7 linked regions of the Homo sapiens genome follow. The protein of the gene in region 7 interacts with the protein of the main gene of each other region in a pairwise test. Each region holds a gene or a part of one and is shown on either strand. Other genes may lie near its edges.

The links.
Region 1: the proteins of CADPS2 (region 7) and WDR4 interact in a two-hybrid assay, tested with the Homo sapiens proteins (one large-scale study listed by BioGRID and IntAct).
Region 2: the proteins of CADPS2 (region 7) and TTC3 interact in a two-hybrid assay, tested with the Homo sapiens proteins (one large-scale study listed by BioGRID and IntAct).
Region 3: the proteins of CADPS2 (region 7) and TSPOAP1 interact in a two-hybrid assay, tested with the Homo sapiens proteins (one large-scale study listed by BioGRID).
Region 4: the proteins of CADPS2 (region 7) and TMEM132D interact in a two-hybrid assay, tested with the Homo sapiens proteins (one large-scale study listed by BioGRID).
Region 5: the proteins of CADPS2 (region 7) and MEGF10 interact in a two-hybrid assay, tested with the Homo sapiens proteins (one large-scale study listed by IntAct).
Region 6: the proteins of CADPS2 (region 7) and UBE2U interact in a two-hybrid assay, tested with the Homo sapiens proteins (one large-scale study listed by BioGRID and IntAct).

What each region holds. Positions count from the first base shown.
Region 1 is NC_000021.9:42,865,615-42,869,660, reverse strand, and holds part of WDR4 (tRNA (guanine-N(7)-)-methyltransferase non-catalytic subunit WDR4), read left to right. Parts: intron 1-4,046. UniProt on the Homo sapiens protein: Non-catalytic component of the METTL1-WDR4 methyltransferase complex required for the formation of N(7)-methylguanine in a subset of RNA species, such as tRNAs, mRNAs and microRNAs (miRNAs).
Region 2 is NC_000021.9:37,194,948-37,198,993, reverse strand, and holds part of TTC3 (E3 ubiquitin-protein ligase TTC3), read right to left. Parts: intron 3,320-4,046; coding exon 2,958-3,319; intron 1,425-2,957; coding exon 1,298-1,424; intron 1,113-1,297; coding exon 969-1,112; intron 1-968. UniProt on the Homo sapiens protein: E3 ubiquitin-protein ligase which catalyzes the formation of 'Lys-48'-polyubiquitin chains. Mediates the ubiquitination and subsequent degradation of phosphorylated Akt (AKT1, AKT2 and AKT3) in the nucleus.
Region 3 is NC_000017.11:58,325,740-58,330,321, reverse strand, and holds the start of TSPOAP1 (peripheral-type benzodiazepine receptor-associated protein 1), read left to right. Parts: upstream 1-1,526; 5' UTR 1,527-2,401; coding exon 2,402-2,734; intron 2,735-3,531; coding exon 3,532-3,639; intron 3,640-3,900; coding exon 3,901-4,029; intron 4,030-4,582. UniProt on the Homo sapiens protein: Required for synaptic transmission regulation. It probably controls the recruitement of voltage-gated calcium channels to the presynaptic membrane, and modulates neurotransmitter release.
Region 4 is NC_000012.12:129,701,245-129,705,290, reverse strand, and holds part of TMEM132D (transmembrane protein 132D precursor), read left to right. Parts: intron 1-4,046. UniProt on the Homo sapiens protein: Regulate neuronals morphology via inhibition of the WAVE regulatory complex (WCR), a complex that controls F-actin cytoskeletal dynamics.
Region 5 is NC_000005.10:127,454,546-127,458,554, forward strand, and holds part of MEGF10 (multiple epidermal growth factor-like domains protein 10 isoform a precursor), read left to right. Parts: intron 1-20; coding exon 21-65; intron 66-855; coding exon 856-1,062; intron 1,063-2,582; coding exon 2,583-2,773; 3' UTR 2,774-4,009. UniProt on the Homo sapiens protein: Membrane receptor involved in phagocytosis by macrophages and astrocytes of apoptotic cells. Receptor for C1q, an eat-me signal, that binds phosphatidylserine expressed on the surface of apoptotic cells. Cooperates with ABCA1 within the process of engulfment.
Region 6 is NC_000001.11:64,201,934-64,206,709, forward strand, and holds the start of UBE2U (ubiquitin-conjugating enzyme E2 U), read left to right. Parts: upstream 1-1,689; 5' UTR 1,690-2,117; coding exon 2,118-2,183; intron 2,184-2,607; exon of another isoform or gene 2,608-2,850; intron 2,851-3,705; coding exon 3,706-3,787; intron 3,788-4,776. UniProt on the Homo sapiens protein: Catalyzes the covalent attachment of ubiquitin to other proteins.
Region 7 is NC_000007.14:122,876,109-122,880,154, reverse strand, and holds part of CADPS2 (calcium-dependent secretion activator 2), read left to right. Parts: intron 1-4,046. UniProt on the Homo sapiens protein: Calcium-binding protein involved in exocytosis of vesicles filled with neurotransmitters and neuropeptides. Probably acts upstream of fusion in the biogenesis or maintenance of mature secretory vesicles.

The sequences.
Region 1 (4,046 bases), on a different chromosome or scaffold from region 7:
CTATGTTTTTCCATTGGGGTGTTGTTTATTTGTAGGAGCTCTTTATATTTGGACACTTTAGTTTTACAAAATAAGCCCATCTCCCAAAGTGTGGCTCTCAACATGGCCTTTCTCACACGGCCTTTCTGTGGCACAGGTGTGTAAGGTGAGCTGCACCGGTAACCACTGAGACTGGATTAGCATTTTCCAATACCCTTGCCTTAGCTGACAAAACTTCAAAGCCCTGGGGTCAAGAACAAGTGCAGAGCTGAGATCCACGTGCCGATGTGTACACGGATCTCAGACGTGATCCAGTTACTTAGACAACAGTGGAGTGTGTGGGTTCCCGTTCAGCTATGGTGAGTGGGGTTGTAGAAGTTGGGAGTGAATTCTCACTTGTCTGCTTCCCCTGGAGTACAGTTCGGTGTCCTCTCATGCTACCTTTTGCCTTTTTTATCCTTTGGTTTTGGTCCGTACAGAAAATTGGAAACCACTGAGAAGTACAAAATGAGAGCAAGAACAAAAACCACCCTGAATTTCACCACCCAGAGCCAGAGTATGGGATGAGCACTGGGGCCAGGCCCTCCTCCTCCTCTCTGCAGATGGATTACAGGATTTGCATGTGTTACACTGTAGTGGTGGCATGTGCTAGCCTATAGCCTGTTCCCCCCCGCCAGGGCAGTGTTGACAACACTGTGTCATTCCCTGTAGCTGAGTTGTTACATTGTTTGCACTGTTCCACTGCTCAAATGCTAGTGTTTCCTTGTACCTCTTCCTGCCTTTAAACTTCGGGAAGTTTGAGCCAGAGCAACTGGGACAGCAGAGGTGTGGACAGTGTGGGTTTACTGGCACCAATGTGTGACAACAGACACGGCGAAGCTTCCCAAGCCTTGGTGTCCAGCGGTTTCCTTGGGGTTGATCACATGCTGTGGGGGTGGCTGACTTTTAGTTCCCAGCCCCTCCAGAGGTGGAGTGGACACCTTGTGGCCCCAGGCCCCTGCCCTAAATCACGTACTTAGGCTGCCTGTGGGGCCCAAGGCCCCTACTCTTGGAGATGAGGCCAAAGGCAAGGTTAATTCTTCACTATGCAGAGGGTGTACCCTGTGCCAAGGCTTTTGATGTCTGGTACCAGACACCATTTGAGGAGTAGCCACTGCCTGCAGAGGGTAGGGGAGGCTGGGTCTGGCCGTGTGTGCCGTAGGCCTGGCTGGTGGTGGGGGTGAGCGGGCAGGGAGCTCACTCGTGTCTTGAAGACGCTGACTCTTTCAAGTCTGGACAGTGCTGCGGCTGTGAAGTTCTGAGGTTGCCAGAAAGATGGAGACGTGGGTGGAATGTCACCTTACTTCAATGTGAGCTTGCTGTCCAGAGGTAGTGTCTCACTTTGAACTTGGGAGAGAGGGGATGTCCAGTCTGCCTGCCCGCTGTGTCCTGGTTCCTAACAGTGGAGCTTCTTCACCCTGATGGAAGCGCGGAGGCCCAGGGCTCCTCCAGGGGTTCTGACTCCTCCAGAGGGACGGGGCCTCTGCTCCTGGCATCGTGCATGGCCCAGAGGAGGGAGGAATCTAGAATTCTCTCCACTCAATGTGGTTGCCTGTGGCAGTTGGCTTCTTGGAGGAGGTCATTTGAGGTTGAGAGCTCCATGAGTTGGGACTCGTGGTGGATGCAGATACCGCTGCAGGCTGGGCGGGTGGGGGGCCTCTTCATCCTTGGTTGTAGGTGCTTTGCCAAGAGGGAGATGTCTTGCTGTGTTGACTCGTCTTTTGAAGGTTGTGTGCTGGTGTGATTCTCTTTATGGAAGCACCTGGTAAAACTCTGGGAGGCTGGCATGGTGGCTCATGCCTGTAATCCCAGCATTTTGAGGGGCCAAGGTGAGAGGATCCCTTGAGGCCAGCAGTTCGAGGCCAGTCTGGCCTCAACATAGTGAGATCTCGTATCTACAAAGAAAAAAAAAAGCACAAGTCCAAGAGTGGGCAGTGCATCTAGTTTAAGTACCCCTAATCTGAAATTCACAATCCTCCAAAATCCGAAATTTTGTGAGCATAGGGAAGATGCTCAAAGGAAATGCTCACTGGAATGTTTCGGATTTTGGATTTTTAGGTTAGGGATGCTGAGCCAGTAAGTATTTGCAAATATTCCAAAACCTGAACAAATCTGAAGTGCAAAGCACTTTTCGTCCCGAGCATTTGGGATGAGGGATGGGCAGCCTGCAGCATGTGAGCAAAGAGCAGTGTTTGGCTCTTGGCAGTGCCCCTTTACCTGTGCGTTCACTTTTTTTTTTTTTTTTTTTTGGTGGAGCGGAGTGTCTCTTTGTCACCCAGGCTGGAGTGCAGTGGCACGGTCTTGGCTCACTGCAACCTCCACCTCCTGGGTTCAAGCGATTCTCCTGCCTCAGCCTCCTGAGTAGCTGGGATTATAGGAATGAGCCACCACGCCTGACTAATTTTTATATTTTTAGTAGAGATGGGGTTTTGCCATGTTGGCCAGGCTGGTCTTGAACTCCTGACCTCAGGTGATCTGCCCACCTTGGCTTCCCAAAGCTCTAGGATTAGAGGCGTGAGCCACTGCGCCCGGCCTGCTCTTGGTTTTGAAAGTGATGTCAGCAGTATAACTTCGTGTAGGAAATGTTTGCCTTAGGTGGTGTGGAAGATGGACCATGTGATTTGATGCAGTCCAGGCAGCAGATTACAAAATCCCGCCTCGATGGTGTGGCTTGGGGTTTCTCCTGACCTTGGTGTAGGGCACGCCTTGCTGCCTCCCCTTTCTCTAGTTGAACTGCAGGACAGTGGGTACAGTTGTGAAGTTACTGCCACTTTCAACATCTCTTGGCAAATTCCTCAATAATCTTTTTAAAATTCCTTTAGAATTGTGGGTTTGTGAACTTTTCAGCATCGGGTGGAGTGAAATTGTTACCCTTTCTCTCAGTGAGAAATTGGAGGGGATTATTGTGGCAGGAGGAGTAGGTTTGGGGGATGCGAGTGGGGCAGGGAGAGGGGCATAGGGTGAGTTTTATCAGGAGCTGCTTTCAAGGAGAGGACTAGGGTGAGTGGAACCATGCTGAGCTGGCAGGCAGCACCCTGTGGCTGGTCCGCAAACATGGGGGCTGCTCCCCACACCTGGAGGCTTTTTATGCCTCTTAGATCTCAGACTCTTAGATCTGATGCACCCGCTCCCCAGAAAACCGCCCACGCTTAGCACATCCACCTCCATTCAGTTTTAGAGGTTCCATGTACTCCTAGCCTCTCTGCATTTCACTGAGGCCCTGCACCGCTGCAGGATGCCCCTGAGCTGGGCGAGACCCTAGGCTCTGTCCCATGGTTGCTTTGTTACTGTGCTGCTGCTGGGAAGCTTCCTGTTGAAGGGTTTTGAGGCGTAGCCAAGATGGAAGTTGTGGGCAGCAACGATTCTTTCCCAGGTAGCAGTTTAGAACCGCAAGGGACGGAGGGCCTGCCACCTGGGCAGTCAGGAGACTCTTGGCCCGAGGGACTGAGGCCAGGTTTTCCAAGCCGAAGATGAGGACACAGGGTGACGAGTGATACATTGATTTTGACATGTGTGTTTATGAGGGAGAAATCCTCCCAGTGGAGTCTGTGTTTCCGAAAACAACTGTGAGAGCCACGGCAGCACGTGGGAAAGGCAGAGCCAGAGAACCATCTGATTCGCTCTGCCCAGGGGGTGGAGAGAGAGCACCTGGCTGCTGGAGTGTGGGTGTGGATGGTGCCTGGTGTCCTCAGTGCCCTGTTGGGGCTGCCCAGGCGGCTCTCTGGAGGGGGGCTTGGGGCAGTGCCAACTCAGTCTGGGAGTTCAGGGCTCAGCCACTCGACTCCTGGCAGAGAACGGAGGGTGTGGAGATGGGTGGTTACTTGCTAGGTTCTGCTGGTCTCTGGGCCCTGAACCCAGTGACTGTGGAGGGAGTGCTGAGACCCGAGACCCGAGACCCTGCACAGGCTGGGGGTTGGAGGGCGGGCGGGGTTGTGCCTCAGCTAGGGTGACAGGCCGGCTTGCCATTGGTCCAGTGACCTGCCCCATTCTGTGACCTCCCTTGGATCCTAGCACCCAAGCCTGCGAGT
Region 2 (4,046 bases), on a different chromosome or scaffold from region 7:
CAATGCCCAGTGCAAAGCTCGGAGCCAGGTTTAGTTTGAAAAAAATATACACTTAACTTGACCGTTTTCTATTTCCTAGAAAAGATGGGCACAGTATATTTCTAACTAAAAGAAAAAAAGGACAACCACAATAAAAAAAAAAATGGAAAACAACCAAAACATTCAGCCCCTCAGAGAACATACAAAGTGTGACTAGCGTATTCAGTTTTGACTAATTCACATATCCATGCATTCAAGAGTTTAGAAAAATATATACCAAAGTGGTAATACTGATTACAGGGCGGGTTTTTAAATGCCCTTTTTATTTGTATTTTCTATTGTATGTAATACTTTGTAATTTGAAAATTAATACTTTTAATTTTAACAAACTATGGTTATCAAATTAGGTCCCAGTTTGAACACATATTTTTCTTTCTCATACAATCTGGTGAAGTTTCAGTAAGTCAGCTTTTATATCTTCGTTACTACAAACATCCATCATGAAGCAAAAACAGAACCCTCTTCTCCAGGCAATCACGGTCTATCTTGGGGTGGGTGTGGCCACACGACACATTGACACATCTGTGTAATTCCAAAGCCATGGTTACACAGAAGAAAATTATTCAAAAATGATTTCCCCAACTGTTCAAAATACCACACTGGATGTACAAAGTTCATGTACTTGACCATCTGCAGCAAAACAAGGGCAAGAGAGAGAAGGCTCAGATCCCCCACGATGGTCAGAGCCCTTGTCACTCATGTGCAGGGGCTTCTCTCCATGCTGGGCCCAAACGTATCACAGCAGACACCATGACCTCGGCCATTCACTGATTGCTCTAACTGGACACATTCAAGTACATTGAAATTCAGTTTCTAATGTTGGGATCAAATAAATTAGGTCTAGAAATGAATGGGGCTAAATCATGGATTAAAAATTTTGTTTGCTTCTTGTTTTTCATTAAAAAACAAAACTATACAGTTATACATACAATCCTCACAGGGACATCTTCTGCTTTCTGCCCCTTGGTTTTGGGTGATGGTGCAACAACCACCGAGGGTGAGCCCTGGGAGGACCTGGTCACGGGGGTGGCAGAGCTGGGCTCATAAGTCCTCTTGTCCTTTCCTGGGTTTGGCTGCGAAAATAACAGGGGTGGCGGGGAGGGGACAAGAGGGAAGCAACCAGTTATCCAACAACTTGACCATCTTCTGTCTTTAGTACATTGCTCTCTAGGTTTTGGTTTGAAGCTTTTTTTTTTTTTTAACAATTCTCATATTTTATAAATAAATAAGGATAAACTGGAACATCTAGATAAAATACCTTTTTCTTTTTCTGTTCATCTAGAATGTGTTCTGTCACTCTTTGGACAATTTCATCAATACTCAATCCTGAGAGTGAGTTCTTGTTTTTGCTTCGCACTTTTTTAATAAAACCAGCAAGCTCAGTGCTGAAAGGGAGAGTGAGTGATGAATGACAACAGAAAGTTCTCTACTGCTAAGAAATATTACATGCCAATATTAATCCAACAGCCCAACCCAAAGAAACAAAGACAAATGCACATAAAATTAATCTGAAGACCACTGATAACAACAATAACTATCTAAAAAGCATAACTTTTTTTTTTTTTTTGAGACAGTGTCTCACTCTGTTGCCCAGGCTGGAGGGCAGTGGCGCGATCCCTGCTCACTGCAACCTCTGCCTCTCAGGTTCAAGCGAGTTTTGCCATTTTTTTTTAAGAAGAGATGGGGTTTCACCATGTTGGTCAGGCTGGTCCCGAACTCCTGACCTCAGGTGATCCACCTGCCTCGGCCTGGCGTGAGCCACCATGCCTGCTGGCTAATCATATTTTAACTGCCCCATTGTTTACAAATTTCAATTTTGAAGCCTGTAATTAACACTGTCTCAGAAACTGAAATAATAGGGCACATGCCAAAGGTCATTCCTGAGCATAGAGTCCTTTGATCCGAGCTGCACTTCAGAGACACCGCCTCTACCTCATCATCTTTCACAGCTGAGACAAGAGGCAACTCTGTCCCCCTCGTAACAACCTGAACAGCGGAAACCAGAGGTGGAGGCAGAAACGCTACTGAAGAGCCTGCCATCATCCCAACTCTATTTACAGCTCTTGCTCACTCAGGTAAGGGCAGCTTTTTCCCACATTCACAAGGACCCCTTGTTAACATGTCCACATGCCCCATTCACTATGGAATTCCATCCAGTCTTCAACCTCACACTCTAACAAATCAGAGGTCTTATATAACAAGGTTTAAGTTGCTGCTGCCTTCTTTGCTATATATAATTTTGTCCCCCCAAATGATGCAAAATTATTGTTTTGCGTTCATTTATTGATACTATAACACTAGTTTTAGACAGTGCTATTGGTCTCATCAAAATCTTAGCAAATTGTCATGGGTTCTGATGAATATTACCCAGTGCTCAATGTTTTCAATTTACATATGCACATTAAAAAATTTATTTGAGGCTGGGTGTGGCGTCTCATGCCTGTAACCCCAGCACTTTGGGAGGCCAAGGCGGGTGAATCACTTGAGGTCAGAAGTTCGAGACCAGCCTGGCCAACATGGTGAAACCCCACCTGTACTAAAAATACAAAAATTAGCCAGGCTTAGTCATGCATGCCTATAATCCCAGCTTCTCAGGAGGCTGAGGCAGGAGAATCGCTTGAACTCGGGAGGGAGAGGTTGCAGGGAGCCGAGACTGTGCCACAGCACTCCAGCCTAGGCAACAGAGTGAGACTCTGTCTCAAAAAAAAAAAAAAAAAGAAAGAAAAAACCCACCAATTTATTTGAAAATACTTATCTCTATATTTACAAAAAGAAAGAAATGTAGCAACTGTCTTTCTGAGCAAAACAATTATGCAACCCTTTTCATGTTAACACCTAACTAGCCATGATTTTATCTAATCAGGAAACCTCAGTTCGATAAAGTATTAAACACAGTCACAGACATTTTCTGTTCATACCTGTTGTAACATGGGAATACCACTGACAGGTGCTCAATAATACTATTGAACGGCTTTTTTGGAGACTGGCTTGAACGCGCAGCACGTCCTGGAGGAACAGGCTGCTTCCGATCAGCCACAGGGCTTCGTTCTGACAGAGCTGCCTGGCCAGCCCGTTTTGGCCCTGTCAGCTGAGTGGCTTCAGGCTGACCAGGGGGTGGCCCTGGCAACAGCGCAGAAGGAGCCTCCCCTGGGGAATCACCAGCAGAGAACACACTAGGATCCCTGTGAAGTGCTGCGTGGTTTCCAGTCACGTCGCTTGCAGAAGTCACAAGCCCTTGGCCATCGTCGCCTGAAGACTCAGGGAGTAACTCGGGATGAACCTGTGAGGAACACACCACACCATGGATCACTTAGGGCTTCCCTTGAAGGATGAAACGCCCAAGGACAAAGGCCGATGAATAAATACAGTAACGCAGCGCAGAGGCTCCGTGCACAGGAAACCTGAATACCATGAATTAAATATTTTCGTTTTAAAAGAATTCTTGACAATAACTTGTTAGTTATTAGAACAAGAGTAGGAGGGCTCAGACTTCTAAATAATTATCTCTATAAGTCACTATTTTCTCTGTAAGATGAGACCATTTTGCCTGCCTACTGGCCCTCCTTCAGCCTCTACCTGGTTACACTTTTCCCCTTCTGAGCTAAACCATGTAGCTGACAGATGGAACATCATGGCCACCACACTCCCCAGAGCTGTCTCCATCCCAGGGGGCCGCCTCCTCTTCCCTGCCAGCTCTCCTGGCAGCTCTCAGGCCTCCGTCCACGCCTGCAGTGCTGACACTCCTCCCCATGCAGCTGCCTGAGGCCAAATCTTTTTAAAAGTTTGCAGTCTAGAATATTTTCCTGAGATCCAAATCTGCAAATCCACTTGGGTGATTCCAAGGCAACTCAAAGTCAGTGTTTTGGAAACCAGCCTCAGGCAGCCTCCCCAGTCCTGCTCTTCCCCTAGTACTCCTGGACGGAAGCCCAAGACTCACCCTCAACTCCCACGTGGACACATGGGGCCTGGTCTCCTGAGCAGCATGGCACCTGTAAATGTACCCCCAA
Region 3 (4,582 bases), on a different chromosome or scaffold from region 7:
TGCAATGATAGAAACATAGGGCGTGTCTTACACATAGAAGAGCACACACATACAGTGACATTTGCATAATAAACACGGTGGCTCCATACACATACATAGATAGAGACATGTTCATATATCATGATAAATATAGAATACATAGATACATGGTGATATATATATATAAATCAAACCATGTCATTATGCATATTTACATGACGATATGAGCATGTCATATATTGTGTAATCAATTACTACATTGTGCCATATAGTAGCATCCATATCTATATATATCATGATGTGTTGTAATTTATAAACTCATGCAATGATAGCCTCCCATGCACATAACAGCACACACATAGACACAGTGGCAAACAAACATAGATGCAATGACACAGAAACATACATACAGATACACCCAATGTGTTTTTGTTACGTTTTATTATGTGACTCATAGACACATAATAGCACACACATATATACACACAATGGCCCCTTCACATATACAGAAATAGATAATGTCTATTCTATAGATGCATACTATACACACGCATGCGCATAATGGCATGCATATATACTCTGACCTAAACAGCAACACATCATGCAGTGGCGTGCGTGTTGACCTACACACTGCTTTAGGGAAGTGAAGATGTCCACTCCTCCCCATGCACCCCCTACCTCCAGTTCCATTGGCTCTTGCCTGGGTGGAGCCCACAGTCAGGGGCTCTAGGGTTCAGTATCACCGCTGCTATTCTGTGGGGGTGCCACACGAGGGCCCCCGACCTTGGCTGAAACTGGCTTGCCTAATGAGTCCCGGGTTCAGAGTGGAGAGGGGCTGCCTCTCGGGGCTTCTCCCAACACCCCTGGCTCTGGGGACTCTGTCTAGACCCCTGCCACTGCATATAGACTGACTCCTGGCTGAGGGGATTCTCACGTCCTTGTCCCCCAAATTATTTAGCAACAAGATCTAAGGCTAGACAGAAGATGAACTTCCAGGCAATTCGGGACAAAGCCAACCCAACAGGCCATGTGGGCTTCCCTGGTGGCCTGGGACAGCCAGGTTGCCCCCCAAGTGCAATCTGCCAGGAGGAAGCAGAAGGAATTCTCCGTCTATTTCTACCTGTCTCTTTGCTTGTCTTCCCGGTTTCTTTCTCTTGGTTTCTGTCTCTCTCTTTGTTTCATCTCAAGTCCCATCTTTTCTAGTTCTGCCCTTCTCTGTGGCTGGATCTCTGTCATACCCTCCCCCGTTCTGTCTCTATCAGTCTCACCCGATGTAGGGAGGACCATCTGCACCCCACTCGCCTCTGTACTCCGGAAGGTGTGAGAATGTGTGAAGATGAGGGTGGGAGGCCACATGTGGGAGCCCTGGGCTGACATGCCGTGAGAAACCTGCTCTTCCTTCTGTCCCCGACCCTGTCAGCCGGTTCAGCCCACCAGTCCAGCGCCATCACCATGGAAACCAGCAGCCGACTTCCTATTGGTGGGTGGGAGGGGAGGAGGAGGAGGAGGAGGGGAGGGCTGGCTCTTCCCGGCTCACCCCCCCACCCAATTCTGAGGCTCAGCCCTCCTCGGAGCCCACCATCTCGAGGCTCCTGGACTGTAAGGGACCCCTGCAGTCCCCAGAGCAGAGGCCAGCAGGGGCTGAGACTATGAGGCAAGCAGCCCATCGACCCAGGCCTCCTTAGGACCAGCCCAGCCACCCAGCAAGCGAAAGAGCAGCAGCAGAGAGCAGAGCCGGAGATAAAGGACCACAGCGGACCACTGGGGATCACCCCCAGCAGCTCCTGAAGCCTCTGGCCGGGCTGAGGGGTTGCGACAGACGGCCAGACCCACAGACACTGACAGACACACAACGACACCGATGCACACAGCTGCACGACACTGACACACTCAGATACAACCAGGGACAGCATCACATACTGCCACAGCCCTGCAATACAGACACCCACACACACACACACAAACAACTGGCAACTCTGAAATGGGCAGACAGTGACACACAGCACCACCCCCCTCAACACACAGAAGTGGGGGCACCCATCTTCCCAACACATGAGACAGCATTGACCTGCACGGACAGACCTGGAGACACACACACGCACCCTCACCCAGGCGCAGCTGTCGGTGGCCTCTGCACATCCTCCCTACCCCCACAGGGACACCCTCGCTCCTCCACATACTCGCGCACACACACAGCTACCAGCAAACATAGCTCACATACCCCTGGCTCCAGCTCCAGCAGCCCTGGCGCCTTCTGCAGCCTCCTTTGTGGGTGGGGAAGAGCTCAGCCAACCTTGGATGGAGCGTCGGTGAAGCAAGAGCTCAGAGGGGAGAGGGGCTGGCCTGGCATGACCCTCGCCAGTCCCCCCACCTGGCTGGGTGATGTCCCCCGGCCCGGGTTCTGGGGCCCCTTGGCAGTACCATGGAGCAACTGACAACCCTCCCACGGCCTGGGGACCCTGGAGCCATGGAGCCATGGGCACTGCCCACCTGGCATAGCTGGACTCCAGGTCGAGGGGGTGAACCTAGCAGTGCAGCCCCAAGCATCGCTGATACTCCTCCGGCAGCTCTGCAGCTTCAAGAACTGAGGTCTGAGGAGAGTTCCAAGCCCAAAGGAGACGGGAGCTCCAGGCCCGTGGGGGGAACTGACCCTGAAGGAGCAGAGGCTTGTCTGCCCAGCCTGGGCCAGCAAGCATCCAGCTCTGGACCCGCCTGCCAGAGGCCAGAGGATGAGGAAGTGGAGGCTTTCCTGAAGGTAAGGGATCTGTGGAGGGCTGGGGTCTGCAAGGTGGGGGTCTCTCACCATGTCCTCCAGCCTGGCCAGGAGGTGAGGCGAGGTATGCATCCCCAATGCCCACCTGTCCTCTCTTGGCCTGTCTGTGGGTCCATCTCTGTGGCTATCTGTCCTCTCTTCATCGAGCAGAAATCTGAGGGGCTCCATTTCTTTCGTCATTTGTCTGTCCTTCTGACCCTCTTTGCCTGTCTGTCTAGATCTGGCCCTGCTGCTGCCCCGTCCCTCTCTGTGCCTCCTCCTGACAGTGTGTCTGTCTGTGTCTCTTCTTCCATGAGTCTGTCTGTCCTTAGGGGCTGGGGGATACAGGGGGAGTGTGGAGGTGCACAGAGAATCAGTGCAGAGGAAGTAGATTGAGGGGAGGGGGCTTGGTGCTGGGCTGAGGCAGGGTTGGGGTGGGTGTGAGCAGGCTCCTGTAGAAGAGGGAAGGAACAGGACTTTGGGGGAGGGCAGGGGAGTCTGGAGGGATGGGAGTGGGAGCTCGAGCTCGCATGTCCCTGGAGGAGAAGATGGGTAGGAATGGGAAGGATCAGGGAGGAGCAGGAGGGTGCCAGGTTTGGGGGTGTCTATGTGGACAGGGAGGACTGGACAGTTCCTTCTCCTAGGCCTCCTCTGCTCCTCTCTGAAGGCCTGGGACATAGGGGAAACCGTTTCATCTCCATGTCTCCTTGGACCATGGATGGTGGATGCTTCCACAGGGAAGGCTCTGGCTGGGTGACGTGGGTTTCTGAGGTGCTGTCCTCGGTCCTTTCCCATGCCAGGCCAAGCTGAATATGAGCTTTGGGGACAGGCCCAATCTGGAGCTGCTGAGGGCCCTGGGGGAGCTGCGGCAGCGCTGTGCCATCCTTAAGGAGGAAAACCAGATGCTGGTGAGGCTTGGAGACTGGGGTGCTGCGTTCTGGCTGGAGCCAGGCCCTCTGCCTCAGTGCCCTCCTCACCCCATGAACATCTTTCCAAGTGGGGGCTCAATGGAGGTGACAAAATCCTGAGACCCAGAGAGGGTGAACCCCTGCCTAGAGTTGCCAAGGACCCCACTGTGAGCCTAGGGCTCTAGCCCAAGACTTGGGCTGTTAGGACTGGGTCTGTGGGGTGCTCCCTACATGCCCCAATTCTGCCTGACCCCTTGTCAGAGGAAGAGCAGCTTCCCTGAGACAGAAGAGAAGGTGCGGAGGCTGAAGAGGAAGAACGCCGAGCTGGCGGTCATTGCCAAGCGCCTGGAGGAGAGGGCCCGAAAGCTGCAGGAAACGAACCTGAGGGTGGTGAGGAAAGGAGGCTGCTGGGCGGAGGCTGGGTGACCAAGGAAGAGGGGAGCCAGGGCTGGGCCTGAGGGCTGTCTGAAGCTTGGGAGTCACGGTCTCAGCTCAGCACCTAGGAAAGCAAGAATCTAGGGGCTAAGGTGCAGGAAGGGCAGAGGCTGGCCAGGCAAGGAGGCCAAAGGTTTCTGGAGCTGCAGGGGGCAGAGAAGAGCTGGATGGGGAGGTTCCTGAGCAGGCAGGGAGCAGGATTCTGGATTACCACGTGCTGGTGCTGGCGGCAGCCTTCTGCTGAGCTCATCTCAGGGTATAGAGCTGGAGTGGGGGCAGGGATGAGACCCATCACAGTGGCAGCCCCAAATTAGCAGCATCCTTTGATCCTAAACTCAGATGTAGAGTTAATCCTTTCCAACTGCTGGGATGGGGTAGAGTGAGGCTGCTGGTTTTCTGAGACCCCAGTCAAGGTGGAAGCAGGTGGCTACCCCCCTAGGTTTTCATGCTAACTCCTCCTTTGGGAGGAGATGAGGAGTGGGAGAAGTGCCCCAGCCCTCAGGTGACC
Region 4 (4,046 bases), on a different chromosome or scaffold from region 7:
AAGATCTACTTTGAATTTGTATATGTATATAAACCCGGGAATGTTTTCGTTTCTTTTTTTGCCTTTTAATGCTGCTGCTTTTGCATTTTCCTGGTGTCTTCATTAGGAGCTCCATCATCTGAATATTGAACATCTAATGTGCATCTCACATGGTTACAGCCTCTTACTGATCATTTCCATTGCTTCGCCTTTTCTATTTAGCTGTAGGGAAAGCTTCAAAAGCTCCCATTCTCATATGATAAATTCAATTTTCTGCATTTTTCAAATCTGTGTTATTGCATCTGAAACCATTTTAAATTCCTTACTTTTAATACTTCAGGATCTTCTTCCATCTCAGTCTTATTTCCTTACAAAACAACAAAGGCTCTGCTTTTCTTGATGATTGTGAGCTCCGAAGTCATTTTGTATAAAAGGTACTTCAATATTCTATGGTAAATACTCTTCAAAGGTATGTTATTCCTCTACTTCTTGAATGTCTTTCTGAATTTCCTTCGTTACTCTGCAGCTTTTATTGGTAGGTCCTGTTCTCCTTCTGTTTTTGTTTATTTACATATCCTTCACCGAGGGCAGCCTTGTTTACATTGGCGTTGCATGTTACCATATGACCCGGCATCCCTGGGGGGACGGTGAGGATGCTCTGGGGTGTTGACATGCCCAGCAGGGGAGATCCCTTGCTCCAAGGTGCCTTCTGTGAGTTGGGTGCAGGGGCCACATGGGCACTGGTTTCCTGTAAGTGATTTTAGGTTTGGACTCATTCCAGGAGCAGTGTGGCTATGTCAAACCTCCTGCCCCCATCACTGTCTCTGTTAGGGAAGAACAGCATCAGCAAGACGCCTTGATGTTTTAGGGCTTTCTGTGCAGCGCGGCGCCCCCTATGCTTGGGTCTCTGATTCAGCTGATGGCAAAGCTGGTTGCCTCCCAGCATTGGGAATATTGTCAGGTGCGGGAGCACCCACATGGCCCATGGCCTTTGCTCTTGCAGATATCAGGGTAGATTTGTCAGCTGCCTAGATATCAGATATCTTACAGCTATCTACTCAGCGGACAACTATTTTCTTTCTATGACAATACCATGCTGAGGATTGCCAGATTTGGGAAATAAAACACAAGATGTCTAGCTACATTTGAATTTCAGAAAAACACCATTTAAAAATATTTATTGTTAATTATAAGCATGCCCTATGGAATATTTCTGTTTATTGGAAATCAAAACATAATTAGGTGTTTGTGTTTTATCTGGCTGCCCTAATCATTCTGTTTTCTATGTGAGGTATTTGAGTCCCTTGTGAGTCCCAGTAATTCTTGCAGTCTATGGCATGCAGATTGTACCTAATTTTCAGCATGGATGTAGATTTTTTTTTTTTTTGCCTATTACCGTATTCGATTAGTTATTGCTTTTGAGTCCACATAGGGGAAAACTGAGAGTCTTGTGCTCAAATTGCCTTCCTCCCATATTTTTTAAAAAAGTATTATTCAGGGAAAAATGATCCTTTCAAAAATGTTAAAATTAATACAAAATCTCTCCCAGACCACTGAGTTGCTTCAAGATGCGAACATGTCACTCTCCTTCAAGTAAGAATTACAGCCACGGAACCCAATCAAAAAGTAATTTTTGTCCTTAGCGAATTATTAGCTGAGATTTACTGTGTATAGCTTCTTTGTAATTTAACACTTTGCTAATTTTTATGTTAAATAAAAATCATGTCCTTTAGTGACAGTAACCATTCCTGTAAGGATGAGAGGATAATGAGTTTTACTTCGTTCATTCTGTGCATCGTGGACCATAATTGGCATTATTTTTGTAGTATTAGTTAAAAAAAAAAAAGAAAGGAAGTGACACTAGCTTTAGGTCAAAATGGAGCAATTTTAAGCAATAAACATTTAGGTCAGATACCAGGCAAAATGACTAATAGACCATTTGTGGAATAAAGCTAAGAAGTTACTTCCCTTCAAATGATGTTCACAGTGACCCCGATTGCCTTATTGCTTTCCTGAATAAAATCATAGGACCCGATGTCATTGCCCTTGGAAGGTGTAATTAGCTGCACAGTTAGGTTTCATGTCCTCAAGTAGTCGGGGTCAGATGTTCAACAGGGAAGTTCACGGAGCCTTGGTGTCTGGCATTAACATTTAAGCATCTGTAATTTGGTTGTCTGGCTTTGGCTGTTTCTAGCACGAATGGCAAAAGAGTGCTGAGGCAGCTCAAGGTACTTGTTCTGAGTGGTGCCAAGATGTGTTTTTAACAATAGGGGACACTGTATCAACTGATGTAGGTCTTATAGGAGTCTCATTACATGGAGAGGCCCATCTTCCTTAGTCCCGTATCACCAGGATTACACGGAGCTCTTAATGGGATAAAAGGATCCAGGATTCCGATTACAGTGATGGAAGCCAAGAGGACAGTGAATAACATCCTAGTGTAAAAACAGAATCTGCTCTTTGTGACATAAAAAGCATAATCCACATGTTGATTTATTCATTCACGTGTTTATCAAATATTTATTGAGTACCTGACATTTACCAGGCACTCTCTTAAAGACTGTGAATACAGCAGAGAAAAAAGCCTTGCGTGTCATTTCTGCTCCCTGGCATATCACACACTGGAGTGCATAGAGAATCACAGCAAAGCATAACGTGTTTTGATGCAGGAAGCTGGGGATGCTACAGAAAAACCCAGATGGAGACCATAACCCAGAATCATACAGTCAAGGAAAGGATCCCAGCAAGGTGACTTTGATAATGCAGCCAGAGAGGTCACAGAACTGTGGCTAGGCAAATGGGGAGAGGGTGCCCAGAGAGGGGCTGAAATATTCTTTGTCTCTTCTTTGTTTTTACTATAACTCACATGTGAAGATACAAGTTTAGAGATAATATCAATCAGGAGTTATTTCTATAAAGTTAAAACATGTAATCTTTTTAAGGCATGGAGTCCCTTTTTATATCTATGATATTTTGATTTTTGAAAACAATCCATATTTATGACGTTGAACCCTAGGAAATTGTCATTTGGGTGGATGCAGACTGCTCACTTATAAGCAGTCTCAAATGGTTCAGTCCAAGACAAGCCTTAGTTGTTTATATGGAAGCTCAGCCTGCTCTGAGTTTGGTCATGCCGATGATTGGAGAGATTTTTTCATCCAGGGCTTTCTGTAAACTCGGGTTGAATACATGCGTTGAACTTCTTGTCTAGAAGTTAAACTGGATGCAGCCTGACACCCTGTGTTATCACAGCTGGGCTGAGGCTACAGTGCTGCAGTCAGCCCCCTCATGCTACCAATGGGTCCATGGGAAACAACGAGGGTCAGTGACCTGCTCATCGTCTCACAAAGCCGGGAGCAGGACCCCTGCCTCCGAGCTCTTGGCTCTCTCAGCTGCTGGCGGATGACTGCCAAGAAGGGTCCTGACTCGGGAAGGCATCAGGCTTCCAGATGTGTGTTTGCGTGGGCCTTTGAGAAAGGTGGAGCCATGAGTGTCCGAGTAATCAAAGATAATTACATGGTGACTGACGAGAAGGGCTTCAGCATAACTTGTGGAGCTTTGCCTAGAAAGTCAGTGTTCCCAGCCAATAGTTTACATTTCTAAAACTCCTTAAATTGGTTCTTTGGATTATGCAATTGCTCTGCCTGCATTTTTCTTACAGAATGTAAGGCAACTTGTGAAAATAACATTTTGGATTTTTCTCCCCCTGAGGGAGAGATACGTTCAGTGCGGAAAAATGAACAATGGATTTTGTTCGTTGGTGACGGCGTAGTGTCCACAGGATGTGGCTGGCATGGAAGCGAGGTGCTGCCCTTCCCGTGCTTCTTAGGTTCAGGGTCCAGTGTTTCATAGATGACTTGGAGCATTGCTTTGTACGCCCGGCCCTGACACATTGGTGTCGTGGTCACCTCATCTCATCTATTTCTAGAGGGCCCCTCCCAATATATCCTTCCAAGGTATTTTCTCTGCATCTCTCCCCTTAACTCCAACTGGGGGCGGGTGTCCACTGTCCATGTGATTTATGATTGTGCATCTGCGTCTATTTTTGCCCCAAGTCTGTTAGCATT
Region 5 (4,009 bases), on a different chromosome or scaffold from region 7:
TTTTTCTTCCTTTATTACAGGTGCTTTTGGACTTGACAGAAGCTATATGGGAAAATCCTTAAAAGGTATCATGTAAATTTGAAGAAGAAATCAGAAGCACAATTAAATTTTTTTTAACCTCAAAGACTGAAATAGTTTTTAAACAAGCTAGAATGGCAAGAGAAAATGTAGAATTTTTAGTGTGGTCAGTTACTACAGCAAACACACAAACATGTGTGACTGACATCAAGAAAGTGACCAGAGGTGGTCCTTGGTAGAGCTTAAGTCTTTGGGGAACAAAAGATTCAGTTTGCTGAGGAAACACTCATATTTCATTTAAAAGAAATATGGCTTATGGGGAGACGGAAACATATAAAGGGAAATAGCCGGGACAATAAGAAAAGATCCACATGGTTACATGTTGACCAAGTTCTGCTGTTCAGGATGGGTGTGCATGATTAGATGCCTAGTACAGAGCTTTTACTAGGAGTCCTCCCAGCACAAATGCCTTCTTGTCATGATAATAGAGCCCTCTTGGTGCTCCTGGGGCCATCAACAGCTGGTTTCTTGATTGAACTTCTGTAAATTTTCTATTAATAAAACAAAACGTAATTGATTATATTCTAATGTGATCATAAAAATGAAATCAGTTAATGATATTGATGTCAGTACTCATCTTGGAGAGGAGCTAAAACTACTTTAGGGATGGGTCATTTTATAGCAGATTCTCTCCAAAACAAGTGGAAAAGGTACAGTATTATTTTCAGTGTGTAGAATTATGGAAACCTAGCTATAAAGAAAAACAGTAAAATATCACCAAGAAATGATGTTGCCAGTGACACAGCATTAGCTTTCTCTTCTCATTTCTCTTCACAGACCTGGGAAAGAATTCTGAATATAATTCAAGTAACTGCTCCCTAAGCAGTTCTGAGAACCCATATGCCACTATTAAAGACCCACCTGTACTTATCCCGAAAAGCTCAGAGTGTGGTTATGTGGAGATGAAATCGCCGGCACGAAGAGATTCCCCATATGCAGAGATCAATAACTCAACTTCAGCCAACAGGAATGTCTATGAAGTTGGTGAGTTCCCTTAACCATAGAAAGAACCGAGTGCTTAAGTTTTTAAAAACAATTTTAAAGTCTTTACGAATATAATAGTTGCAGGTCATAGAAATCTTATTGAAAATAATGGTCCGTATTTTATTTTATTTTATTTTATTTTATGTATTTTTTGAGATGGGGTCTCTCTGTCACCCAGGTGGTGTGCAGTGGCACAGTCTTGGCTCACTGCAACCTCTACCTCCCGGGCTCAAGCCATCCTCCCACTTCAGCCTCCCAAGTAGCTGGGACCACAGGCACGCACTACCACGCCCAGCTAATTTTTTGTATTTTGGGTAGAGACGGGGTTTTGTCACCATATTTTATTAATAGATGCGACCTGTGTTTTTAGCGATCATATTAATTGGTGCCAAAGGAATTTTCCAGGGAAAATATTATTTAGAAAAATTTAAGGTAAAGTTTCTTTATTTTTCACCTAATCATCCATCTTTTGTTTTGTAACCATAGTGAATATTTTGGCACACATGTGGATAGCATATGTATCATATTAGCTAATATATCTACTTAGCCGAAACAAATGGTTCAAGTGGATTAAACAGGTGATTCCATTTCCTGGTTCATTATATTAATATAATGCATTTAGCAAGATTGAAACATTTTACTTTTAAACTTGTCCAAAAGAGCAGTAATATTCTCTGATGTGAATGTGATGCAAATTAATATGAATTCAATTTAAAATTGGAGTTATTTTGATTGTCTTTTGCAGATACCACTTGGGAAATGATAAAACATTCCACCACTACTCTTGGCTAAACAATAGGGCTATATATTTTCATTTCTCTCTCTCTCTCTGTCTCTATTTCTATGTCTCTCTGAGTATTTATGATTTTAACTTTAAAATATTCTCTACTACTTGTAAATGAAGTGCCTACTTTACTACTAGTAATTTATTTTATGCCAGATACATCCCTGGGAAAAAATATACAAAATAATTTATTTTTAAAGTATTAAGACAGCTTTTTAAAATGCAAGTCAAAGTGAACTAAATTTATTTTTGGAAAGTCAGTAACAATTCTCCTTTAAACTGTCCCACAAACCTGCCACAGTAGGATGGGAACTCAAATGAGAGCCTGAGTCTTGAGTCCTAAAGTTCTGAACATGTTGAGTGTTTTCATGAACTGAATTAACGTTTGAGAATGTCAGTCTTCTCACCTGTGGAATAAGGGGCTTGGCCTACCTTATCCCCAAGGTGTTTTTCAGACCATGATTTATTTCCAGGATTCTGTATATTCCCTTAATATCTTCATCCCGATTATGTGGTCCTCCTTTTGTTCTGAACACCATTTGTGTTTGCCAGTTGATCCAACTACACAGAGTTGCCACCTGTATGTGATGATTTTTAAAATCATGTTTTTAAAACCAGCATTTCCTTATATTTTTTTAAAAGTCCCTTTGGTGTGTTTGACATTTGCAAGAAATGCCATATTCTTTTTAAAAACATTTCCTTTGCTGATAAATTAATATGTCCTTGGTTATCACAGAACCTACAGTGAGTGTTGTCCAAGGAGTATTCAGCAATAATGGGCGTCTCTCCCAGGATCCATATGACCTCCCAAAGAACAGTCACATCCCTTGTCATTATGACCTGCTGCCAGTCCGAGACAGTTCATCCTCCCCTAAGCAAGAGGACAGTGGTGGTAGCAGCAGCAACAGCAGCAGCAGCAGTGAATGACACCAAAGGACCGCTTGGTAGCCACTGGAACCCTTTCCAGAACTGCTGTTTGGTTCTTCTCCATCCTCAATTTTGCCACTTTCATGTGAATGTTAGTCAATTCGGTGGGCAATTTTTGGACATGAACCAGAAAGCTGAAAGCTGAGGCTGACACGGACTGTAGGTGCTTTTTGTTCAGGTGGATTCGAAGGAGTTAGAGATGTGATTTCCCATTGCTGTTAGTTTTAGAACTATACCCGTGAAGCATGACTTATTGTAAGATGTTGGCTGAAAGCATGAACTTGCAGAACTCCCTCGGAGACGCAGGTTGCAGTGGACATTGGGATTGTTGCTTGAAAAATTAAAATTTGAATATTTTCTCTCTCATTTGCATCATACAGCTCTACCTAGGATTGTACAGTTTACCATAAAATTTACTTCATGAAAGTGGGAATCACTGAACATGTAGAAGACAAGGAACATATTGTTAACTCCTGATTCTTAACTTTATTCAACTGGACTCAGAATTGTAGGGATAATATGAATGCAGGAGGAAACATTCTGTCAGGCGGTATGACTGGACAGACTTTGAATATACTCTAAAAGTGGACAGAAAATTTACGAAAATCTTAGATTTTGTTTAGAATGAGAAAATATACAATTAGAATTATTTTAGAAATAGTAGGAAGTATTGCAGAAGTCAATACACAAATGTGCCAGGCAGAGGTGGTTTTCTCTGTTTGACTCTCAACCAACTTCAGATCTATGACATTATTCTGATCACTGGCTCCATCATACATATTCACCACTTGAGATTCATAACATATCAATAGTTATTTCATAAATATAGAAATGAAATAATTTTATTTTTGACAGACTGGATGGAATGAGTGTGTAATGATTGATAAAGGTTGTAAATTTTAAATGCAAGATGACGCTTACGTTCTGTAAACCATTAGTAATACATGCTGTAATATAGAATTAGTGGAACATTTTGATTAATCTTTCCCTAGAAGTGACTGAAATATTTTTGTGCATATTTGAGAAAGGGAACTTTCCTTTTATTAATTGTCAATTTAGAGAAACTATGCTTAAGCTGGTCTTTTGCATTGCTAATGTGACATGTACCCAACTTTTCATTAATTTGTATTTCCATTTTTAAATTGCATATTCTATGTTTTGTAGTGTTTGGATTGTTAATGAAAAAATATTATATGTTCGTTATTCCTTGTATTATTGCCACTTATCTTTTGCTTG
Region 6 (4,776 bases), on a different chromosome or scaffold from region 7:
TCTTTTGCCTTGGGATCCTGTTGATCTGTGACCTTACCCCCAACCCTGTGCTCTCTGAAACATGTGCTGTGTCCACTCAGGGTTAAATGGATTAAGGGCGGTGCAAGATGTGCTTTGTTAAACAGATGCTTGAAGGCAGCATGCTCGTTAAGAGTCATCACCACTCCCTAATCTTAAGTACCCAGGGACACAAACACTGCGGAAGGCCACAGGGTCCTCTGCCTAGGAAAACCAGAGACCTTTGTTCACTTGTTTATCTGCTGACCTTCCCTCCACTATTGTCCTATGACCCTGCCAAATCCCCCTCTGCGAGAAACACCCAAGAATGATCAATAAAATAAATAAATAAATAAATAAATAAATAAATAAATCAGAGCATGACACTCTCCTGTTTAAACCCATTAAATGGATTCCCATAGCTATTCAAATAAAGCCCAAACTTCCTACTGTATAGTGCCCATCTTTATCACACCCCTCCCAGGCTCCTCCACAACCTCCCTGACCTTCCCTTGTTCCCTTTTCAAGACAAGCTCTTTCCTGACTCAAAAATATCTTGTTTTCCTCTTCCTAGAACTCTCTGCCCTCAATATTTCATGTAGCAGGCTCCTTCTCATCTTTCATGTATGAGTTCAAAACCCCATTCCTTACAGAGGCATTTCCTGACTACCATTTCTAATCCTTAATGACCTACCCCAATCTCTATCATGGTACTGTTTTATTATTGTCCACATAACGTTTATCACCATCTGAAATCATGATTTTTGTTTTGCATACTTGTTTATTGTATATTGGAGCCATAAAGACATTTACTTCATTTGAATCTTTCAAGTAAAAAAAAAGTATTTAATAAATATTTGTAAAATGAATGGACTAAATGAACATCCGGATTCTATAAAATTAGTAAGTAAAAAGTAAAAAAAGAAAGTATTCTGAACAAAGATGCCAGGCTTTGTAGTTGGCGCTGGCAATGGAACCGTGTCTTTCAGTAGTTCCCACTCTGGTGAAGACAATAGACAATTGTGATGCCGTATGGCAAATGTTAACTAGGAGGCAAATAGAAGGTCCTGTGGGATCACAAAAGAAAGGATCCCTTAAAGAGTCGTTAAAATCTGAAGGATGAGTGAGTGAAGGGGAAATGAGGGCTGAAGGGGTGGAAGGAATGTGGTAAACTCCTAGGTAGAAGGAACAGCAGGTGCGAAACTGTGCGGGAAGAGATGGGAATCAGAGAAATTTTAAGCAGTTCCCTGTTCCTGGAGCACTTTCCCAGGGTGATTGTAGGGTTTGATGACATAATAGCATGCACACTACTGTGAATGGTAACTCGCCATGTAAGTTAAGATATTGTTATGCAGACCTGTACCTACCAGTCACTTACTATATCTTTTGATAGTCAAAGAAAAAGGAAGGATAATTTCGAAGAAAGACTTCGTGGGACGGCTTCTGTGACTTACATGCTGGGTCCTGGGACCTCACCCCATCCTCTACACTAGTTTTGTACAGTCCATGTTCGTGGCCTGAGAAGGCGTGGTGTTGCCTTGACCACGAATCTCATTGGCCTTTCAAAGGGGAAACTGTTGTAGGATTGGCTGTGGAGATAGCAAGAGGCCTGCCCCCTGTCGCTGATTGGGTGAGAGCGGCCAACCCCCTGCCTCCGTCTCTCGGCGGCCCCACGGGGGCCTGTTGGTTGGCAACCGATTTGCTTCCTCCGGTGCGTGGCTGCGGGGTTGCACCTGTGAAGCGAAGACAACCTGCTAGGACCCTGATAGGCGTACACCTCTCACTCCCACTCACGCGCCGACGACATGGGCTTGTCTCCGTTACTCATCCAAGTTTGTCTTGAGACTGGGCTGTGAGCCGGCACTGCAGTGAAACGCCGCAGATGAGGAAGTGCCCAAGTCTTCCTTCGGGAAGTTCTCGTTTAGAGGAGTCAGGAGAAAAAGTCATTGTTATATCCCAACTTTAGAAGCCGCTTATCTTGGTACCGTTCTGAGGTTCTAGAAAGCAAGTAACTTATATCAGTTTACTAAGTGTGGGAAAGTGACCCATAACTTCAAACATCTGCCTCAGAGTAAACCTGAGGCATTTGGGGACAAGTGTCAGACCCTCCGCTGCCTATCATGCACGGCAGAGCTTACCTCTTGCTGCACAGAGACTTCTGTGATCTCAAGGAGAACAATTATAAGGTAAGTACTGGGCACGTGGAGAGATGTGTTTCATTGTGCAATAATTTTTAAGAGGCAGTTTAACCCATTTTATTCTATAAGTAGTAATTTAGTTAAACCTGATTTGCCACTACAGTATTGTTATTTAATAAATCCATTTCACTGAAGTAATGTGTTTCATATTAATAACAATTATTATTACTTCAAAATAATAATGCTTAACAATATTGAACATATTATGCAGAGTAATTTATGTGGATCTAGGCACTGAATATCAGGGTCTGTCATGTAGTTAGTGACTAGTAGGTGCAGGCTTATGCTCATTAATTATAATACTATACAATAAGTAGTATTTCATTTTACTTACCAAAAACCTAAGCCTCAGAAATATTCTGTAAAGATTTTGCCCCATGATTCCATTACAGGGTTTTTGGACTTCAAAGCCCTAGTTCTTAATTCCTGTGTTCCACTGCTTACTGTCTAGTGTACTTTTACCAGCATGACACATAAATGCCTTCCCTTTATAGTTTTAACACAAAAGAAGCAATGTCCTTGGGCTTAAACGCCACCAATGAGGTTATCAATGTCCATGGCTGCCACAGGCTGATTTACGGAAAATGAAAAATGGAAGAGGGGGCGAAGAGGGAGTGCTTAAGAGAAAGAACAGAAAGAAAGCTGTCCATGAAAGGTATAGAGTGCTTCCCACAGTTGCTTCAGGTGTAGTTCAGTGGCATTGTTCATTTTTTACCTCTGCTATAAAAGTACTGCATTCACTGGAGATGTTAGGAACAATTATGGAGTCCAACAGCGAACATTCCTGGGGCATGGACCTAACATTTGATATTGTTTCTGCTCATCCTGAGCTCTGTAGTTCTCTGTTGAAAGAGAATCCAATGAAGGAATATGTAAATATAGATAATAGAGAGACAGGGCTCACCCAGACAAGCACTAACATACTTAATAACTATGTGGATGCTCAGAAGTGTTTTTATGTGTTTGTAAGTGTGTTACTTAACGTAATTCATAAGGTTTTCTATGAAATACATTCTTGTCCCTCCATTGGAACAACTCCTCAAGTATAGGAAAACTTTGCTTTTATATACAAGTGTAATTTTGGATTTTTTCTTAATGAAAATGTTCCCACTTCATGCCTTTCATATAGCATTCATATAGCTCTAAAATGTTTTGAAGAAACATGCACTTTCCAACTATTTCTTTCTTTTAAAATTTGAATATTAAATTGGTTATTGATTTACACAAACAGTATATAAGCCACACATTCTAATCTTGACTCTCTAGTCCCACTTGTGATTTCCACACTTATGATTTATTTTTAATTACTATTGCATATGTTTTCTGGGATCTATATTAACTTCCGTGAAATAAGACATGTAACACTTCCCCAGAGCAGCAAATAAATAAACTTATCAAGGAAAGAAAATTTAGAGTTTTTAGAATTCAGTGTGACCTGGTATATGATTTTCAAAACTTCAATAAATACTTAATAAGTTTTTTCTGATTTAATTTTGTTTTTAACTTCAAGGGTATCACTGCTAAGCCTGTAAGTGAAGATATGATGGAATGGGAAGTTGAAATTGAAGGTCTACAGAATTCAGTTTGGCAGGGTTTGTATTTTCAAAACCAATCTATTTTTTAAAAAAGTCTTTATACCATTATTAGCCCATCCTCTTTTTATGTAGGATAAGGTCGCATTATATAAATTTCCTGAAATTCTTCTTCATATGCATAAGTTTGCATTATACCAGTTGTCTAAAATTCTAAAAATATTCCCATTTTTTTTATTTATGACTTTTTTGCCATGTGTCAACATAGATGGAAATTTGGGGTATTTTTCTTTATGCCAAATCTTAATTTTATTACATTTTTAAGAAGCAGACACAATAGAGCATATCAATTGAGAGAATATCGTCTGCCTTCCGTGAGATCAGGGAATAACTATCAAAATTCCTATTGGCTTCAAAACCCCACAGTTACTTCTCATTTTTTCCTTTATGATTTTCCCCCAAATTTTCATAAATCAAAAAATCTCAAGAACACTAAGCCACTATAAACTTTAATGCTCATGTTTTCTTTCAATTATGGATTAATAAGATAGATTCCTTGAGTGAGGTAGGGGAGACAAACACATCAGCTGATAATTACAATAAAATATACATTATTATGGATTTTGAACAGAATGCTAAAGAGGAAGAGGATTAGTTAATTATGCCTGAGGGAGTCAGGAATGTCTTCCCAAGGAGATCACATTTGAGTTGAGTCCTGAAGAATCTGCCAGGTTCAGAAGAAGGATAAGGAAATTCGGGCAGAGTAAACAGCACAGCAAAGACTTGTAGACAAGAAAGGGTGTAGCAGATTTTGGGAACATGAGTTCAGTCAATACGAGATACAACAGAGGGGGTGGATGTTAGGGCGACAAAGGTAGTAGATGGAAAGGACTAGTGGGAAAGAGACTGAAAACGTATGATTATAATAGATTGTGAAGTGTCTGTTATACTATCCAGAGGAGTCGGTGCACTCTATGAATCAATTTACTTAAAAATAAAACTGTGGAAAGACTAAACCATAGGGAGAAACTCCAGTGTTAATCAGGTTA
Region 7 (4,046 bases):
ATTCCTAACTGAACAGTACAGTTCACAAAGGTCCTACAAAACCGTTAGTGGGCAAACTGTTTCCTCAGTGTATGTAGTAGTAATGCGTACAGGTTTTCCAAAAAGTAAACTTTAGAAGTCATTCTAACATAATTATTAAAGTAATTAAATGACTTATTAAAGTAATTAAAGTAATTAAAATGACTTGTTTATTAATTAAAATGACTTGTTTAAGTTCTGCTATGTCCAAAATTATAACATTAGGTGGACAGTAAGGAAAAGCTTCTATTTTCCTCAAATCTTATTAAAAAGGTACGTTGTTGGTTTGCATTTGGGAGCCTTTTACTTTGTACAGCATCATGAATGCTCTGCTTGCTTCTTGAAACTTTTATACCACTTTGTAGATGTTGTGGTTTCAGTACTTTCATTTTATACCTTCAAGTTAGTGATGGATTTTTATAATGAAAATATTACTGGGGCAAAGGGCCTGAAAATTTAAAGCCTGTCTTTGTCAATCTAATAGCTAAGATATTTAATTTGCTTCTTTCTGATTGCTTGTGAGGATGAGTATTTGTAAGCTAGTGTCCTTTTCCCCATTTCTTTTCTTTTCTTTTCTTTTTTTATTTTTATTTTTTATTTTTGAGATGGAGTCTTGCTCTGTTGCCCAGGCTAGAGTGCAGTGGTGTGATCTTGGCTCACTGCAACCTCTGCCTCCTGGTTCAAGTGATTCTCCTGACTCAGCCTCCCTAGTAGCTGGGACTACAGGCACGTGCCACCGTGTCTGGCTAATTTTTGTATTTTTGGTAGAGACGGGGTTTCACCATATTGGCCAGGCTGGTCTCGAACTCCTGACCTTGTGATCTGCCCACCTTGGCCTCCCAAAGTGCTAGGATTACCTGCATGAGCCACTGCACCTGGTCCTTTTTTTTTTTTTTTTTTGAGGCAGAGTATCACTCTGTTGCCCAGGCCAGAGTGCAGTGGTGCCATGTTGGCTCACTGCAACCTCTGCCTCCCGCGTTCAACTGATTCTTGTGCCTCGGCCTCTCGAGTAGCTGGGATTACAGGTGTGCACCACCATGCCCAGCTAATTTTTTGTATTTTTAGTAGAGATGGGGTTTTTCCATGTTGGCCAGGCTGGTCTCAAACTCCTGGCCTCAGGTGATCTGCCCGCCTCAGCCTCCCAAAAAGCTGGGATTGCAAGTGTGAGTCAAGATGCCCGGCCTGCAGCCCGACTTTTGATGAATCTCTACTTTCATTACTAAGTGTTATGGCCCAATTTAATTATTTCCTTGGTAAACTATTTATTGAGTCCCTATTATGTGAATTTAACACTATCCAATATGTTCCGAGGATATAGTAAGAAAATAAAACAAGCAAATAATCCCCTTGTGGGCTAATGTTCAATAATTACAGGTTGTATGTCTATAAGTTTATTAATTTAATTCTTTTTTCAAATTTTCATGTAATTTTAACTTATGACAACTTTGTATTTATTTATTTATTTATTTATTTATTTATTTATTTATTTATTTATTTGAGACAGAGTCTTGCTCTGTCGCCCAGGCTGGAGTGCAGTGGCAGGATCTTGGCTCACTGCAAGCTCCACCTCCTGGGTTCACGCCATTCTCCTACCTCAGCCTCCTGAGTAGCTGGGACTACAGGCACCCGCCACTGCACCCGGCTAATTTTTTGTATTTTTAGTAGAGACGGGGTTTCACCATGGTCTCGATCTCCTGACGTTGTGATCCGCCCACCTCGGCCTCCCAAAGTGCTGGGATTACAGGCGTGAGCCACCGCGCCCGGCCGACAACATTGCGTTTTAATTTCTGGTGTGGTTATTTCCCTCTCTAATGTGTCAGAAATTTTTTACTTGTATCATTCGTCTTTCCCTTCCCACTTTTTTTTTTTTTTTTTCTTGAGACGGAGTTTCGCTCTGTCGCCAGGCTGGAGTGCAGTGGCGCGATCTCGGCTCACTGCAACCTCCACCTCCCAGATTCAAGTGATTCTCCTGTCTCAGCCCCCCGAGTAGCTAGCTGGGATTACAGGCACGTACCACCACGCCCAGCTAATTTTTGTATTTTTAGTAAAGACGGGGTTTCACCATGTTGGCCTGGATGGTCTTGATCTCTTGACCTCATGATCCACCGCCTCGGCCTCCCAAAGTGCCACTTTTTAAAAATAGTGCAGTAGTATAGCGTCTTTGTTAGGAAAGCACTGGCTTCAGAGGGCCTGGACTTCATCTTCTCACTCACTCACCGTGTGAACAAGGCACTTCGTCTTTCTGGGACCTAACTACTCCTTCAGTAAAATGTTGATAATTTAAAAATCATAGGATTTCTGTTGTGACGAAATGAGATGCCTATAAAGTACATGCTCCTGATTAGACGCTATCGTTTCTAGTTGTTAATTAAACCTGTTTGGGAAACAATGATATTTTTACTATATTCAGCCTTCTAGGAGCATACGATATCTTCAATTAGTCAAGACTCTGTAACTTTTTGAAGGTTTCATCATATAGATCTCTTGCATTTATAATCAAGTTAATTTTTATATTTTATATTTTTATTGTGACATCTTTTTAAATCTCATTATGGATAAATGGGAAGCTTTTTTTTGTAATTAACTGGTCATTGATGTTACTTAATTGTTGTCTTCAGTGTTGATCCTTTTAGATTTTCTAGGTAGGCAGTTGAAGCATCTGTTGATAGTGATGGCTTTTGTCTGGTCCTGTCCAATAGCTATACCTCTTTTGTTTCATATGTCACCATACTCTTTAGAATAGAACAGTATTTGTACTTGTTGCCAAAGCCCTTGTTTTGATCCATTATTCACTGGGAAATGTTTTTGGTGCTTTACTAGTGAATATACTGTTGGTTAGGATTCTTGGATAGAATTCTGGTATTCTTTGTTTATCCTTTTTCAAAAATTACATTAAGAAAATAAAATACATCAAGAATTGATACTGAATGTTATCAAATTCCTTTTTTTGTATTAATAGAGGTGAATGCCTAGTTTTGTTTTACTGATGTGACAGATCAGATTACTAGGTTTCCTGTTATTAAAGCATATTTGCATTTCTCGGGTAATTTCTACCTGATTATGACTGTTTTTTTTAATACACCTTTGAGTCTGAGTTTCCTGTACTTTTAATTTTTACATGTATGTTCATAAGAGAAAGGTCTATCAGAAAGGTGTTAACTGAGAAACATTTTACCTTTATATGTGCTCTAGAATAGTTTTTTTGTTTTGTTTTTGGTATGTAAATCATCTGATACATGAAGTTTTGAAAGAATTCACTCGTGAAATTACCTGCATCCAGACCCTGTTTTTTTTAGCCTATTGCTTTTTCTTCTTATTCAAAATTAAAATATGATAATTGCACGATTTCAGAAAAGTGGCTATTTTCAGATATAACATAATTTTTCACTTATTTTTCCAATATCCTTTATGTTAGCTATAAGTCTTATTTTAGATTATATTCTTCCTAAAAATATACATGTATATATATAAAATGGTGGAGTGCAGTGGCTAATACATGTAATCCCAGCATTTTGGGAGGCTGGGGTAGAAGGATCACTTAAGCCCAGGAGTTGGAGAACAGCCTAGGCTACACAGTGAGACTCAGTCTGCACAAAAAATAGAAAAAATTAGTCAAGCATGGCGACTCATGCCTGTGTTCCCAGCTACTCAGGAGGCTGTGGTAGGAGGATCACATGAGCCCAAGAGGTCAAGGCTACAATGATCTGTGATTGCACCACTGCACTCCAGCCTGGGTGACAAAGTGAGACCCTGTCTCAAAAGAAAAAATAAATATAAAATTAGATTTGCTGGATTCCCTTATTTTATTTTATTTTTTGACACAAAGTCTTGCTCTGTGGCCCAGGCTGCAGTGCAGTGACACGATCCTGACCCACTGCAACCTCTGCTTCCCAGGTTCAAGTGATTCTCCTGCCTCAGCCTCCCAAGTAGCTGGGATTACAGGTGTGCACCACCACACCCGGCTAATTTTTGTGTTTTAGTAGAGATGGTGTTTTGCCATGTTGGCCAGGCTGGTCTTGAGCTCCTGA